Linked DNA regions of Homo sapiens: region 2 is linked to region 1. A link means that fine-mapping ties the variant in region 1 to the expression of a gene that starts in the linked region. Tissue or cell type: testis. Region 1 holds a variant in brackets; the other region holds the start of a gene. All regions are shown on one strand. Distances are from middle to middle.

The links. PIP is the estimated chance that this variant, and not a neighbour inherited with it, causes the effect.
Region 2: it holds the start of RPP30, and the variant in region 1 is fine-mapped to the expression of RPP30 in testis (GTEx, PIP above 0.99).

The regions. Positions count from the first base shown.
Region 1 is chr10:90,903,260-90,911,369 of GRCh38, forward strand. It overlaps a transcript of RPP30 not described here. Among named protein-coding and RNA genes, the nearest start is that of ANKRD1, 14 kb to the right of the region's middle. The variant T/A (reference allele first, on the strand shown) is at 3,667.
Region 2 is chr10:90,868,787-90,876,896 of GRCh38, forward strand. RPP30 (ribonuclease P/MRP subunit p30) reads left to right here and starts at 3,188. Exons shown (of 11, transcript NM_006413.5): 1 at 3,188-3,282; 2 at 6,083-6,138; 3 at 6,772-6,828; 4 at 7,238-7,312. The coding sequence starts at 3,201. RefSeq lists enhancers at 3,026-3,320, 3,039-3,308, 3,439-3,498.

The DNA of each region.
Region 1 (8,110 bases):
TGACCCTTCTTTAAAAGGTTGGTACCCAAGTATACATTTATCTATTTTAAGCTTAAAATGCTTAACAGGATGTATGTTCAATTTTTTGCGACGTCCCACCTTAATTTATGAATTAGTGATGTACCAGCTACAGTTGCACCAGATACAGTAAGATTTTCATGTTATAGAAAGGAGGTAAAATTATTTGCAGATACGACTGTCTTGGAAAACTCGTGAAATAAATGGGAAAAAAGTAGAAATACAGGTACCTTTCAGCTTACGTCCATTTACTACACATTTGTGTAGTATGTGTTTGCAGTTGTGCGTGCTTTCTATTCATACATGTTTATGCCATTGTTCATGATAGTAGGGCATGATGGCTGATCACCAGTGAATAGCAGAGGCAAGTTTCCTTCTAATATTTACTTTCGTTAGAATGAACCACTAATTTAATTGCTACAAGATGCCAATACCTCTGCCAAACCAAGATGAAGTTTGGCAGAGTGGCCAATTGTATAAATACACAAAAACCAGATTTTGATTAATAACCTGTTAAATAATTTTAAAAGATGACACTATTCACAAAGACATAAATTACCAAGAAATGTGTAGGGCCTCTATAAAGAAAACTTAATGAAAGTAATAAGAGAATAAAGGGAAAATAAAGACTAGAATACATGGAAAGAGACATTCTGTTTTCTTGAATAAGACAAATTGTAAATCAAATTCTCCCCCAAATTACGCATTTAACAAAATTTAAAATCAAAATGCTTATAAGTATTTTTTGTTTTCTTGTTTATGTATTTGGTCTTTGGACTTGGTATTCTGAAAGAGTAAATATGAGAATTGGAAATTTCAGGAAAAAACCTAATGGGAGGGACTTACAATGCTGAATATTACAGAGTATAACAAAACTCTAGTACTGTAATTAAAACTAATTGGTGCAGAAATTCAGAACAGTGAAAAGAGCAGGAAGTCCAAGATCATACTTTAGATATAAGAAGAAATGATGGATTGATTGTTCAGTAAGTGATACTGAAATAATTGGTTATCTATTTGGGAGAGGCAGTACAGCATACCAGTTAAGTGCATAGGGGAAAGAAAAACTAAATGCATTTAAAGCCCTACTTGCTAGTACTCATTAGCTATGACCTTGGGCAAATTATGTAACCTCTCTGTGCCTCGCTTCATCTGTTCTCCCTACCTGTCACATTATTGCAAGGATTAAGTAGGTTAGTATTTGTGGAAGGCTTACTTTGAACAGGGCCTGTCATATAAAATGTACCAACTACAGCCGGGTGCCATGGCTTACACTTGTAATCCCAGCCCTTCAGGAGGCCAAGGAGGGCGGATAACTTGAGGTCAGGAGTTCAAGACCAGCCTGGCCAACATGGCAAAACCCCGTCTCTACTAAAAATACAAAATCAGCCAGGCATGGTGGCCCATGACTGTAATCCCTGCTACTCGGGAGGCTGAGGCAGGAAAATTGCTTGAACCCGGGAGGTAGAGGTTGCACTGAGCTGAGATCGCACCACTGCATTCCAGTCTGGGCGACAGAATGAGACTCTGTCTAAAAAAAAGAAAGTACCAACTATTTTATTATTTATTACTTCATTATATTAATTTAAATATTGAAGTGTCAGCTATCATTTAGGAAAAAACTAAGTCAAATCTCTATCTCACACCCAATACACACCCATAGTAAATCCAGGTAGATTAAAGATTTAAATTTTTTAACAAACTTGTAAAATACTAGAGGAAAATGTAAGTTAATTAAAAAAATAATAATCTTGGATTGCAATAGACCTGCCGAGCATGGTCATCAAAGCCAGAAAACAAAGTTTGATTGATTTGTCTCTACATAACAACAAGTAGGAAAGTACATTTACAATACATATTCCAGGAAGGTTTCATATGCTTAGCTTTTAAGAATTTTTTTTTTTTAAATACCCAACATGACATGCTGTTAGCATCCATAGAGATCCCCATTCCCAGGGTGGTGTACCTATATTGCCAGTGCTTCAGATGTTGGGTACTAATGACTTATCTTCACCCTTTTCCAGAGGATTGTCCTGGGCTGATGAGAGTCACTTTACCTGAAGATACCTGGGAAGTTTTGTCTCCTCTGAGGTTGGCCCATGGCCAGTGACTGATGCAGGACATTACAGCCTGGCCCACTGGCCTCGGTGGTACAATTTATGCTCCTGAGCACCCCATGGGATTACGCTGTGTGTGGATTTCTCCTGAAACCACATATTTGCCTCTTCTGCCCTGTTCTGTTTTTTCTCATTCCCTTATAGAGGACTCTCAGTAAGTCACTTACACAAGAATCCTAATTTGAAATGCTGCTTCCAGGAGACCTGACTTAGAAAATTGGACAAATAAAGTTGATTTTTTTAAATGTCCAGTAACATGAAGATGCTGAACTTTCCTAGTCATTTAGGGGGAAATCACCACAAATATATCTGGCTGATCAGGTTGAAAGTTAAAAGAAAAAAAGATTTATAAAGTGGGTATTTTCAAGATGGTGTGGAGGGAGATACAATTTGATGCAAGTCTTATACTTTTGATGTCAATTTATTCTTCAGAAATAACTGGTTAATTATAAAGGGTGGATGGATAAGGATATTCACTGCAACAATGTCTTAAATGTGAAAATGGAAACAACCTAAATACCCAATAATAACAGGATTAAATAATTCATTGTACATTAAAAGAATACTGTCTATAAAGATGTCTAGAATAAGTTGTTCAGTTGAAGTTGTAAAGCTAAATACACAATACCCATAATGTGCACAGAAATAATCAGAATGTCATGAAACCAGGATTATTGGTGATGTGTTGCTTCCTTTGTTACTCATTTCTGTATTGGCATAATGAGTATTGGGTGTTCAAGAGGAGGGGGAAGGAAGTATGACAGATGTTATGGGGAAAAAGCAAAGTACAACAGGAAGACACCTTGGGGGAACTAATAGAATCTAAGGACTCAAGGATGGCTTCCTGGAGGAAATACAGCTAGAACAAAGGGGAGGAATGAGAAGTGATGTGATGGCGTGGAGTGGGCTGTAGTGGGAAGAAGAGTCTTCCAGGGAGCTGGCACAGTATGTGAAAACAGTAAAGCAAGTGCCTGGATTTTTTAAGGAACTGAAAATTTAGTTGAGTTGAAATTTAGAGTTTGGCTAGGAAGGTTATGAGAGATAAGAATAAAGAGTTAACAGCAGCCAGATTTTAAGGATTTTATAAGACATTTTTAGGAGTTTTTATTTCATCCTGAGAGAAATGTGAAGCCATCGAAGGGTTGAAAGAGGAGAGTGAGTTGATCAGCATTGCATTTTAGAAAAATCCCTCTATCTGCAACTTGAAAAACATTCTGGAGGTAAGCAAGCCTGGAGGCCAGGAGCCTAGGAGGGCTATTTGATCCAGATGAGAAGTAATGGTGACCTGAACTAGGGCAGAGGCACCTAGGATTGGAAAACATGGACAGATCACAGCACTACTTATGTAGTATACTTGGTAAGACCTGGTTGTTTAAAAGAGAAGGATGAGGGAAAGAAGGTCAAAAACAACTTCTAGGACTCTCCATTGGCCAGTGTGGTGTGCCCTTCACTGAAGAGCAAACACAAAATGAAAGATTGTGGGCAAAGAGTTGAGTCAGTGAGAAGGCAAGGAGAGAACCTTATAAAAAAA[T/A]TGACTATGTGATTAAAAACTTAAAAATTTCCCCCAACGTGTTTATCTTTTCCATTAGCAGAAATAACTAAGAGTTGTCTTAATTCTAATGGGATTTATTCCATATTGTCTCTCATGCCCTCTACCTAGTTATTAGTGCAAATATTTATATGTGGCAACATAAAACTTTTTAACTCTTTATTCTCTTCTCTCGTGTACCCTCCCAGCTCTTTAGGGGAGGTGGATTTGAGGCAGATACCATAAAGAAAAGTTGGTCACATGGTGGTAACACGTTGAAGTTATGCCACATGAGACATCAGCACTGGCAAGAGAAATGTCTGTGTTGTAGATGTTTCACTTGGAAGAAATTGAAGGACCCTGAGCCTTAAAAGTCTGACAAACTTAAGCCAGGACCCCTGTGGGGAAGGTAGAGGGGCCAACAAACAAGATTGGGAGTCAGAGAGATAACAATGAAATCCCCAATGCCTGTGGGAGGTGGACTCCCTGGATTAGTACTAGACAGAAAAGGTACAAAAATATTTCAAACCATTCTCACAACTCTATATGTGTCTATGACCAGATAACTGGAAGACCTTCTGGTTATGGACTATGCGTATACACTCTCCCAGATAGTTAGAGGCATATCTAAGAGGTTAACATATATGATCTTATCCAAAATGGGTCTCTTGGTGCTAGTGTTTTACATCAGACTTCACTGGCTTTCATGTATTTCCACAAGTGCCAAACATTTCTCATATCCTTGCTGTATTCCATAGAGCAGTGTTCCTGCTACCTGGAACACTTGATTCTTGAATAACTCCTGTTTACCTTTCAGACAAACCCTAAAGGTTACCACCTCAAAGAAGTCTTTATAGAAGCCTCATCATCTTAGACACTCTGTATTGTTTCCTTCATCGTATTTACAACAGACAGATACTGTGCACTTACTGCCTCACTTAACGACAGGGATACGTTCTGAAAGGTGCATCATTAGGCGGTTTTGTTGTGTGAACATCACAGAGTGTTACTTACACAAACCTAAATGATACAGCCTACTAAACACCTAGGCTATATGAGCAATACAGCCTATTGCTCTTAGGCTTCAAACTTGTACGACATGTCACTGTACTGAATACTGTAGGCAACTATAACACAGTGGTAAGTATATTGTGTATCTAAACAAACATAGAAAAGGTAATGCACTGTACTATGATGTTACAACAGCTAGGATGTTGCTATCAATAGAAATTTTTCAGCTTCATTTTATTTTTATGGGACCACCTTTGTATATGTGGTTCATTGTTGGCCGAAACACCATTCTGTGGCACATGACTATGTATTTATTCCTCATTATTCCTTTAATATTCATCTCTTCCAGGAGGGCATGTCATGGACAATCTCTTTTTCTTACCACAGGTCTTAGGACCTGGCCTAGCACCTGGCCAAGAACTACTGGCATACCTCCTTTTATTGTGCTTCAATTTATTGTGCTTTGCAAATACTGAATTTTTTACAAGTTGAAGATTTGTGGCACCTCTGTAACCAGCAAGTCTATTGGTGCCATTTTTTCAACATCATGTGCCTGTTTCCTGTCTCGCTCATGTCACATTTTGGTAATTTTCACAATATTAAAAACTTTTTCATTATTATTATATGTGTTTTGTTGGTTAGTGTTCTTTGATTTTACTATTATAACTGTTTTAGGTAGCCACAAATTGCACTCATATCGGACAGTGAACTTAATCCATGAATGTTGTGTGTGTTCTGACTCCTCCATCGACCAGCTTTCCCCATTTCCTTCCCTCTCTTCAGGCCTCCCCATTCCTTGAAACAAAACAATATTGAAATTAGGCCAATTAATAACCCTACAATGGCCTCTAAGTGTTCAAGTGAAAGGAAGAACCACACATCTCTCTCAATCAAAAGCTAGGAATGATTAAGCTTATTGAGAAAGGCATGTAGAAAGCCAAGATAGGCTGAAAACTATGCCTCTCACTCAAGTTGTGAATGCAAAGGAAAAGTTCTTGAAGGAAATTAAAGGTGCTTCTCCAGTGAACACACAAATGATAAAGCAAAACAGCTCTATTGCTGAATGGAGAAAGTTTTTGTGGTCTGGATAGAACACCAAACCAGTTACAATAATGCCTTAATCCAAAGCCTAATCCAGAGGCCCTAACTCTTCAATGCTATGAATGCTGAGAAGTGAGGAAGCTGCTGAAAACAGTTGGAGAACTGCAGCGGAAGTTGGTTCATAAGATTTGAGGAAAGAAGCCATCTCTGTAACATAAAAGTGCAAGGTGAAGCACAAGTGCTGATAGAAGAAAGAAGCTGCAGCGAGTTATCCAGAAGATCTAGCTAAGATAACTGATTAACATGGCTACACTGAGCAACAGATTTTCAATGTAGATGAAACAGCCTTCTATTGGAAGATGCCATGTAGGACTTTGATAGCTAGAGAGGAGAAGTCAATGCCTGGCTTCAAAGCTTCAAAGCTTTGACTCCCTTGTTAGCTGGTGATTTTAAGTTGAAACCAATGCTCATTGACCATTCTGAAAATCCTAGGGTTGTTAAGAATTATGCTAAATCTACTTTGCCTGTGCTCTATAAATTGTACCACAAATCCTTGATGATAGCACATCTTTTTACATCATAGTTTATTGAATATTTTAAGCCCATCATTGAAACCTACTGTTCAGGAAAAAAAAATATTCCTTTCACAACATTACTGCTAATTGAAAATGCACCTGGTCACCCAAGACTGATGGAGACGTGCATCTGATGAGGATGTACAAGGAGATGAATGTTATTCTCATACCTGCTTACACAACATCCATTCTGTAGCCCATGGATCAAGGAGTCATTTTGAATCAAGTCTTATTAAGAAACACATTTCATAAGGCTATATGCCGTAGATAACGATTCCTTTGATGGATCTGGGCAAAATAAATTCAAAACCTTCTGGAAAGGATTCACCATGCTAGATGCCATTAAGAACATTCGTGGGTCATTGGAGGAGGTAAAAATATCATTAACTGGAATTTGAAAGAAGTTAATTCCAACCTGTGTGAATGACTTGGAGGGGTTCAAGACTTCGGTGGAGTAAGTAACTGTTGATGTGGTGGAAATAGCAAGAAAACTAAAAGTGGAGCCTGAACATGTGACTGAATTGTTGCAATCTTGTCATAAAACTTGAACAGCTGAGAAGTTGCTTCCTATGGATGAGCAAAGGAAGTGGTTTCTTGAGATGGAATCTACTCCTAGTGAAGATGCTGTAAACATTGTTGAAATGACAAAAAAAGGATTTTGAATATTACATCAACTTAGTTAATAAAGCAGTAACAGGGTTTGCGAGGATGTACTCCAATTTTGAAAGATGTTCTATTGATAGTAACATGCTATCAAATAGCATCAGATGCTACAGATAAATCTTTTATGAAAGAGTTAATTGATGTGGTAAGCTTATTGTTGTCTTCTTTCAATAAATTGACACAGCCATCCCAATCTTCATCAACTACCACCCTCATCAGTCAGCAGCCATCCACATGGAGGGAAGACCCTCCGCCATTAAAACGATTATGACTCACTGAAGGCTCAGATGATCATTAGCATTTTTTTTAGCAATAAAGTATTTTTAAGTTAAGGTAGGTACAGTGTTTTTTAGACATCGTGCTATAGCACAATTATTAAACCACAGGATAATGTAAACATAACTTTTGTATGCACTAGAAAACCAAAAAAAATTGTGACTCACTTTATTGTGATATTAGTTTTATTATGGTGGTCTGGAGGTCAAAAATCATGGACCTGTGTGTTCTCTCCTGGGAAGTCTTTGACATTGCCAGTCCCTGTCCACAAGAATTGTTAAATCTCCAGTTAATTTGCATTTTTCTAATGATCAGTGATATTGAGCTTTCTTTTCCAGATGTTTGTTGGCCACATGAATATCTTCTTTTGAGAAGTGTCTGTTCGTGTGCTTTGCCCACTTTTTTGATGGGGTTGTTTTTTCTTGTAAATTTAAGTTCCTTGTAGATTCTGGATGTTAGAGCTTTGTCAGATGGATGGAGTCTGAATGGCAGTTACTTAAAAAGTCAAGAAATAACAGATGCTGGCAAGGTTGCAGAAAAATAGGAACACTTTTACACTGTTGGTGGGAATGTAAATTAGTTCATCCATTGTGGAAAATGGTGTGGTGATTCCTCAAAGATCTAGAACCAGAAATACCATTTGACCTAGCAATCCCATTATTGGGTATGTACCCAAAGGAATATAAATCATTCTACTACAAAGATACATGCATGCATATGTTCATTGCAGCACTATTCACAATTGCAAAGACATGGAACCAACCCAAATGCCCATCAATAATAGACTGGATAAAGAAAATATGGTAGATATACACCATGGAATACAACGCAGCCATAAAAAGAATGAGATCATGTCCTTGGCAGGGGCATGGATGCAGCTA
Region 2 (8,110 bases), 34 kb before region 1:
CTCCTCCCTCCCAAACAACTCTAGTCTCTGCTTGCTTTGCTCAGGAAGCAGTACACTAGGCAAGAACTGAAACAAATTGCCTCCATCCACATGTAGTTCTACCACTAATAATGCCTTAGTTTTCTCAGATATAAAAAATGGATATTGATTTTAAAAACAAAATAACAAAAAGTAAAAAACAGTACTTCTGCAAGTCTAGATCTGAAAACAGTAATAAAACAAAAATAAAAAACAGCATTTAACACACAGCTGCTTTGAAAATAAGATACATACATAAGTACTTAGCAAATTCGCTGGCCCTCAGTATAGTGCTAAATACTGATTGTTATCTATTCCTATTCTTTCTTACCTCTTCTCTTCCTCTTCACCCAGGCTTAGGGTGCAGAGAAGAAAAGAAGTTTATATGGTACAGTCCACAGCAAAAGTTCTGTGACTTTCAAAGAAGCCCACTTTAGTCTCATACTAGCATCAGATAATTAAACAGTCTCCTAGCCACAGCAATTAGGCAAGAAAAAGAAATAAAAGACATCCAAATTGGAAAGGAGGAACTCAAATCATTACTGTTTGCAGACAACATGATCTTATACATGGAAAACCCTAAAGGCTCCCCCAAAAAAACTCCACCATTTAAAACTAGCAAGTAAATTCAGTGAAGTTGCAGGATACAAAATTGACATACAAAAAAACAGTAGCATTCTGTATGCTAATAGGGAACTATCTAAAAAGATCAAGAAAACAATTCCATTTACAATAGCTACAAAAAAAGATACCTAGGAATAAACTTAACCAAGAAGGTGAAAGATCTGTACAATAAAAAAAATTAAGGAAATAAAGATGACACAAATAAGTGAAAAGATATCCCATGTTCATGAACTGAAATAATATTGTTGAAGTAGACATACTATCCAGAACGATCTACAGATTCCATGCAATCCCTATGAAAATACCAATGACATTCCTCACAGAAATATTTTTTAAAATCCTGAAGTTTGTGTGGAACCACGAAAGTCCTCAAACAGCAAGAGCAGTCCTGAGCAAAAAGAGCAAAGCTGGAGATATCACAAAGCCTGACTTAAAAATATGCTACAAAGCTATAGTACCCAAAACAGCATGGTACTGGCAGAAAAACAGACACATAGACCAATAATGTAACAGAATAGAGAGACCAAAAATAAATGCATGCACCTATAGCCAACTGATTGGTATTGAGGGAGGGATTGAGGGAGGAGGATGGGGAGAGGTTGGTCAACAGGTACAAAGTTAGATAGGAGGAATAAGTTCTGATGTTGTATTGCACACAAGGTGACTATGGTTAACAGTAAGGTATTGTTTATATATCACGAAACAGCTAGAAGAGTTTTTTTTAATGTTATCACCAAAAATGCATGAGGTGATGAATATGCTAATTACCTTGATTTGTTCATTATACAACATATACATGTATCAGAACATGAAATTGTACCCTATAAATATGTATAATTACAATGTGTCAACTAAAAATGAAAAAATAATTGAACTATCACCTTATTCACCTTCACCACACATTGGTCATATTTCTGACCAATCTAGATTGTTATGGTCATAGGTGATGATGCCTGTGTGACCCTGCAAAATTAACACTAGATATTCTCATGAAAAACAAAGCGTTTGCTTCATATGACCTTATTCTATTTGCAGAAGTAATATTCTCTTCTACTCCCACTTAGGAAATATCAAGTACTGGAAAAGGCAAAATATCTCTTCTTTACAAAAGTTAACCAAGAAGAGAATTGCATGCTACTGCATGGAACAGATCCTTCCTCCCTTCTGAGACCGACAAGAAAATCGCATAAAGGAGTACTAGTTAAGGTGTGGTCCATAGACGAGAGACTATCTGTGAACTGTTTGTGATCAGTAAATAAGAGAAATTGATGGGTGAAGCATGTGGGTGGGCTCCTGTAATCACAGCTAGGAGAGAGGATTGCTTGCGTTAGAGTCCATCCTGGTCAATAACGAGATACTCTCTCTAAAAACAAAACAAAACGAAACGAAAACTCAGCAGGCCACCAACTAGGATACTCCCTAGGTCAAATGACCGAGCCTCTAATTCTGTGATTGTTGTTGCTGTGCGCACGTTAATAAAACAAACAAACAAACAAAAAGTGAAGATGTTTAGAAAGTTTACAGTACTTTGGCATTGTCCTGATAATCCAAGCTCCTGATCAGCAGATTCTATTCAGCCAGGTATAGGGCAGTTCGAGTGTTGTCAAATTTGTGATTCCCATGAGGCCAGGCTGCTTACTGGTAATGCATAAAGGACCACATCCTGGTTCGCGAAGAGTTTGGGGGTAGAGGAAAAGGAGGGAGAAACTGATCCTTCATCACAGGTAGTTTGAGAGCACTGATGTAAACTATAGTCACACTTTTGTAGTATAATTGATTATTATCCTCAATAGATCATTTACACTAAGTCGGAAAAAAGTGGAAACATCAGATATGTGGGATATGCGTCACCTTGTACATTTCTCAGCTGGAAAAGTGTAAAACATCTCAATTTTGCACCTCCCTTTTCAAACATGTCTTTGGCTAAATCAATGTTGGCTCTAACCGCTCGTCCTAGAGCGAGTCCCGCCATCTTGTGGTTGAAGATGTTGACTGCCACAGAGAATAGCGGGCTTTGACATCAACAGTTCTGATTGGGTAAAAAGACCCTCGTCTTGGGGTAGTTCTCTTTTGAAGTCCTAGAGTCCGTCACACACAAACGCCTTCTTCCCGGTAAGTCCATTGTAAACAACGGAATGGACTTTAGGGAAAGGAAAGGAAAACGTGTTCTTTAAGACTCTTTAAATAGCGTTTTCACCCATTAGCAGAATTCTCTGATTCATGAGCAGCACTAAGTAGATACCGTGTGCGTGCATTTTGAATGAATTCATTTCTACACTATTTTATAGGAGTATTGAATAGTTGGGAATTGGAACCCCTCCAGGGGGAACCAAACATTGTCGTTCAGAAGAAGACAAAGAGAGATTGAAATGAAGCTGTTGATTTCAACACACAAATTCTGGTGGTAGATGAAAGCAAAGCAAGTAAGTTTCTCCGAATCCCTAGTCAACTGGAGGTAGAGACGGACTGCGCAGGTTAACTACAGCTCCCAGCATGCCTGAGGGGCGGGCTCAGCGGCTGCGCAGACTGGCGCGCGCGGACGGTCATGGGACTTCAGCATGGCGGTGTTTGCAGATTTGGACCTGCGAGCGGGTTCTGACCTGAAGGCTCTGCGCGGACTTGTGGAGACAGCCGCTCACCGTGAGTTGCCCCGGCTTCGCGCCTGGCCAACCTCATGCCACCCAGACCATCGGGCCACACTCCGGAGTAACTATTTCCTGATGGGTCTCGGTCAGGTCTCCCAGAGTCTCTGGGATGTCCCTGGAGGCTGATGCCCGCCGAGGTGTTGGTCTGATTCCTAGCGCGGGAAACTCGAAGGTTCTGGGGGTTGTTATCTGGTTCAGCTACTTTCCTGCAATGAGGGAACTGAGGCCTAACGAGGGCGAGGGATTTGCATAGGGGCCTACAGCTGATAGGTGACAGAAGCCGGAGCTGGACTCCAAGGGTACAATCTTCTAAGCTTCTAAGTTACTATCAGCCCTTCCTGATTCTCACGACAGTGTCTAAACAAATACTGGAATTTGGGGCACGGACAGGAAGCGCCGTGGAGGCTCGGAGAAGGAGGAGGACGTGGGAGTGTTGGAACAATACTATCTAGACAGAGAGAGGGTAGGTGGGGGCAGAGGACATACACAGCGGAGTGGAGGTGGAGGAGGAGGATAGCATGGCCCAAATCGAAGGGAAGCGAAAGCCTTGAGAGACGAGAACCTGTTTTAACTATTGGAGTTAGTCATGGGTTCTGTATTCCGTAGACTGTAAAGTGTTGGAATAGAGAGATTAAAAAGAATCAAGAGGTTCGTGTAGTAACATCTGCTCCTCAGAGACAGTTTTCAGCTCATTGTGAGTTCTGATTACTGATACTGTTCAGAGGTGGTGCTAGAAATGACAACCACTTCTTGGCAAAGTGAATCACACCACTTTTTTATTGTTCTCTTTATGAAGTATCCGTGGCGAAATGACTGTCCCTTTCCACTGCTGCCACTAAATGAACGTTATCTCTGTGGTACTTTGCTCATCAGCACGAAGACGAAAGTAGACATGATGATCTGGGCCATTTGGCGCTAATGTTCTTTGATCCTGTAAAATAAGTTTTCCTAGGTGTAGTTTGTCGCAATTATTACCTCCTCAATGAGGCTTTTCCTGACGCCATCCCATTTTTGAATAAATCATGAGCTTCCTAAGAGAATTGCCATGTCTTATCCTTTTATTTACTGTGCTTAACACGTTCACTCTGCAGGCACCAGTACATGGCAGTTACTCAGTTAATGCTTGTGGAATAAACTGAACACATTAAAAAAATTAATACAAAAAAGAAAAGTTAATAATGATTTCTTTAGAGAATTTCCCCCAGTTTAAAATACACTTGGAAGAGGTGTGGTAATATATGTACATTGTTAGTGGTTATTTGTTTGTAAATTAAATGGAATTCATGGCATATAAAGTTGCCTCAACTTACAAGTCAAAGACAAAGGACTGCTCTGCTATTTGATGAGTCTGGAACTAAATAGTGGACATTTGCAAAGAATAGGAAAGACAGAGCCCTGGTTCTCAGTTTCTGATGTGATACAAGAAACCAATAATAAGCTTCAGAAATATACTGTGTAAATTAAAATACCCTAAAGCCTGATTGGGGAAGTAAGTACTCCTAAGCTGCCAGATGAGGAGTAGTCTAGGAAAAAGTTTTGTGGAGAAACAGATCCTAGTTGACATTTCTGTAGAACGGTAGGGACATTGTTTAGTAGCCAAAAGGATATCCTAAATGGGTATAACAAGGAAGTTTAGAGCAGATTTGGGAGTGTGGTAAAGAAGAATAGGGAGGAGGTGTGGCTGGTTGATTTGACTAACTGGGTGCAAGGTGAAGCCCAAGGTACAGGCATACTTGTGATTTTTTTTTTGTTTTTAAGGGTAACTTTCTTCAGGGAGCCTTTTGTGACCCCTACACCAGGTTTCACTGTGCTATGTACTTCCATAGAATCCTTACTTATAAAAAACATGTATTTATATACAATGACTTGCTTAATTGCCTTATTTGCCTTCGTTCTCCAACAGACTAGGCTGTAAATTTCTTGTGGAGAAGGATTATATTATTTATCCTGTATGCTCAACACCAGTTTAGGGCTTGTCAAGTAATGGATGCTCAGTAAATATTTGAGGGAGGAAGGGAAGAAGGAAGTTGGACAAACTGTTGAGAGTTTGGCATTGATATGTATTTTAATGTTAATATCCTTTCATCCCCATTGGTATTTTTAAAAATTAAAGATGGGAGTCATGATTTAGATTTTTTTTTGGTAGCCCAAATGTCCAGAACAGTGCTAACTGATGAGGATAATAAAGCAAGCCCTTGACCTCAAGGAGCTCCCAGTCTGTCGATGGTGTGCAGCTTAAAATGGGAAGCGGGCAGTGGTGTGAGGGAGTTATCACTCCATTTCTCCTTAGGAAAGGAGTCTCTGAAGGAAGTAGAAGGATAAAAAGCAAAAGAAATGAACGGGAATAAAAGTGACAGTGATAAAGTAGGAACTTGATGGGATAAAAATGAATATAGGGTCATGAAAGAGAATGACATTTGAAAAGGAGAAGCACAAAGTTAAGAGTCTTTAGTATCATTTTAATAATAATTCATAATGGTTAAACAAAGACCTGTGTGCCAGGCACTGTTCTCAAACACCTCATGTGTATTATTTCATTTAAATTTCATGACAGTGTATGAAGAAAGTGTTGTTATTTTCACCATTTGACAGATGAGGAACCTGAAACTTCATGTTAAGTAACTTGTAAGTGGTAGTGCATAGACTTTAAATCAGGCAGACTGACACTAGAGTTCACATTCATAACCACTCCTCAAATGTCCTCCTACTCTTGACATCTAGACTCAGGATGGACCTGTGTTACAGGAAGGAGAGGTTGTTATATTTAACAAAAGTGTTCAATTTTTCTTTTTCAGTTGGCTATTCAGTTGTTGCTATCAATCATATCGTTGACTTTAAGGAAAAGAAACAGGTAAAATAATATTTCTAAAGTTAATAAGTTCATAAATAAGTATTTGTAATTCTGTTTGTATTGGTAATTTGGAAGCTACAGATTAGAATATTTCTTAAATGCACCCCTTTGTGCACTACTACTTTTCTATTTTATATAGAAACAGTCGAGCTGATGCATATTTATACAATGATGATTTTTGTGAGGTAATATGACATAGTGTTCAGGATTCTTAAAGGTGATTTGAAATTAAGTTACTTTTCACTGTTCAAAAAGTGCATTGTTATTGGCTGGACTGTAATCAAAATATTTAGTCCTTTTTATTCTATTGTCATGGGCTTATTAACTACTTTCTCTCTTAAACATTACTAATAAGTATGTATATTTCTCTTTAGGCCAACAACTGTATCCTGTAGATTATTTCAGTCTAAAAATTAGTTTTCATTCTTCCTATTCACTGATGTTTACAGTTGCTTCTCTATTTAGCTTTCTTTTTAAAAATAATTTTTAAAAGTTTTTTTGAATACCAGAAATCACCTTGCTTTCTTTTTAAAAAAAATGCATATTTTTTCTGAGAACACCTCGTAATTTTTCCATTATGCCTTGTGCTATTAATGGATACAATCTGCAGTAACTATTTATCGTTTGTTGTAGGAAATTGAAAAACCAGTAGCTGTTTCTGAACTCTTCACAACTTTGCCAATTGTACAGGTAGGTGTTTTGTTGTTTACGAAGCATAATATCTATTTATTCAGTTAAAAGGTACCTAATTATTGTGCTATTCTCTAGCTTGAGCTGCACCTTACTCTGAGTACCAGTCTTAACGTTTTCCTCAAGGCTCAGCTCTTCAGGAAACATTCTTTTACTATCAATTCAGCATTGCTTTGATGATCTTCTTTCCTGAAGTCCTACAATTTTTAAATTATCTCGTTATGTAGTTTAAGATATATACATCTCTTTCTGTGGCTGTATTGTAAATTCCTAGAGAACAAGGACTGGGTTTTATTGATCTTCACTATCCCTTATAGCCAGTACCTTTTAATGAATACTTTCCACTGGTAAAAAGGAAAATCAATTATTGTCTTTTGTGCTTTTTTGACATCATGTCTTTTTTAAATAGGGAAAATCAAGACCAATTAAAATTTTAACTAGATTAACAATTATTGTCTCGGATCCATCTCACTGCAATGTTTTGGTAAGTTAATTATTTTTCTTCTCTCCTTTTGGCTTTGTGAGTTGTATTGATTAATGTTGAACAATGTTGCATTTTGTCTTCCCCATTTTACATTTTCCCTCGCCCCCGCCAAACCATGACACCTGCTTGCTCTCCTTGTCCTCAGAATTCACACAGTGTAATATGTCTGTTCCACTTACTCATGGCACATGTGTAGTGATACCACAATTAAAGAATCCCTTGGCAACTGTTACTCATTGAACTCACGTGCACCAGACTTAAGGTGGGTGCTGGGGGGTATTGCCATGAATAATAGCACAATCCTTGAACTTATAAAGCTTAAAGTTTAATTGGCAAGGCAAGCACTGAACAAATAATAATTACAAATGTAAGGAATGTTCCAAGGTAGGGAAGTGGTAAATAAAGGATGCTCTGGGAGTATGTAACCTGAGTAAGTTGATATTCAAGCTGGGAGACAGAAGAGTCAGTAAATGTTAAATAGGTGACAAGCAGGGAGCTAATGTTCCCAGATAGGATGGATTATGCATAGGTCCTGAAGCTAAGGAAAACGTGGTATTTTCTGGGAAGTGAAACAAAACAATAGGGCTAAGCCTAGTGAGCCGGTTACATGGCATAAGGTTAAAGATATAAATTTGGGTGAGGATTCCAAGAGCAGTTGGAAGCCCTTGAAGGTTTTAACTAAGGGAGTGAAATGAGGTTTGAATTACAGAGAATGGATTAGAGGGAGTTAAGGAGGGTACTTAAGAGGCATCCAGGAGGGAGAATTGATGGGATTTATTGGTTAATTGGGTGTAGGAT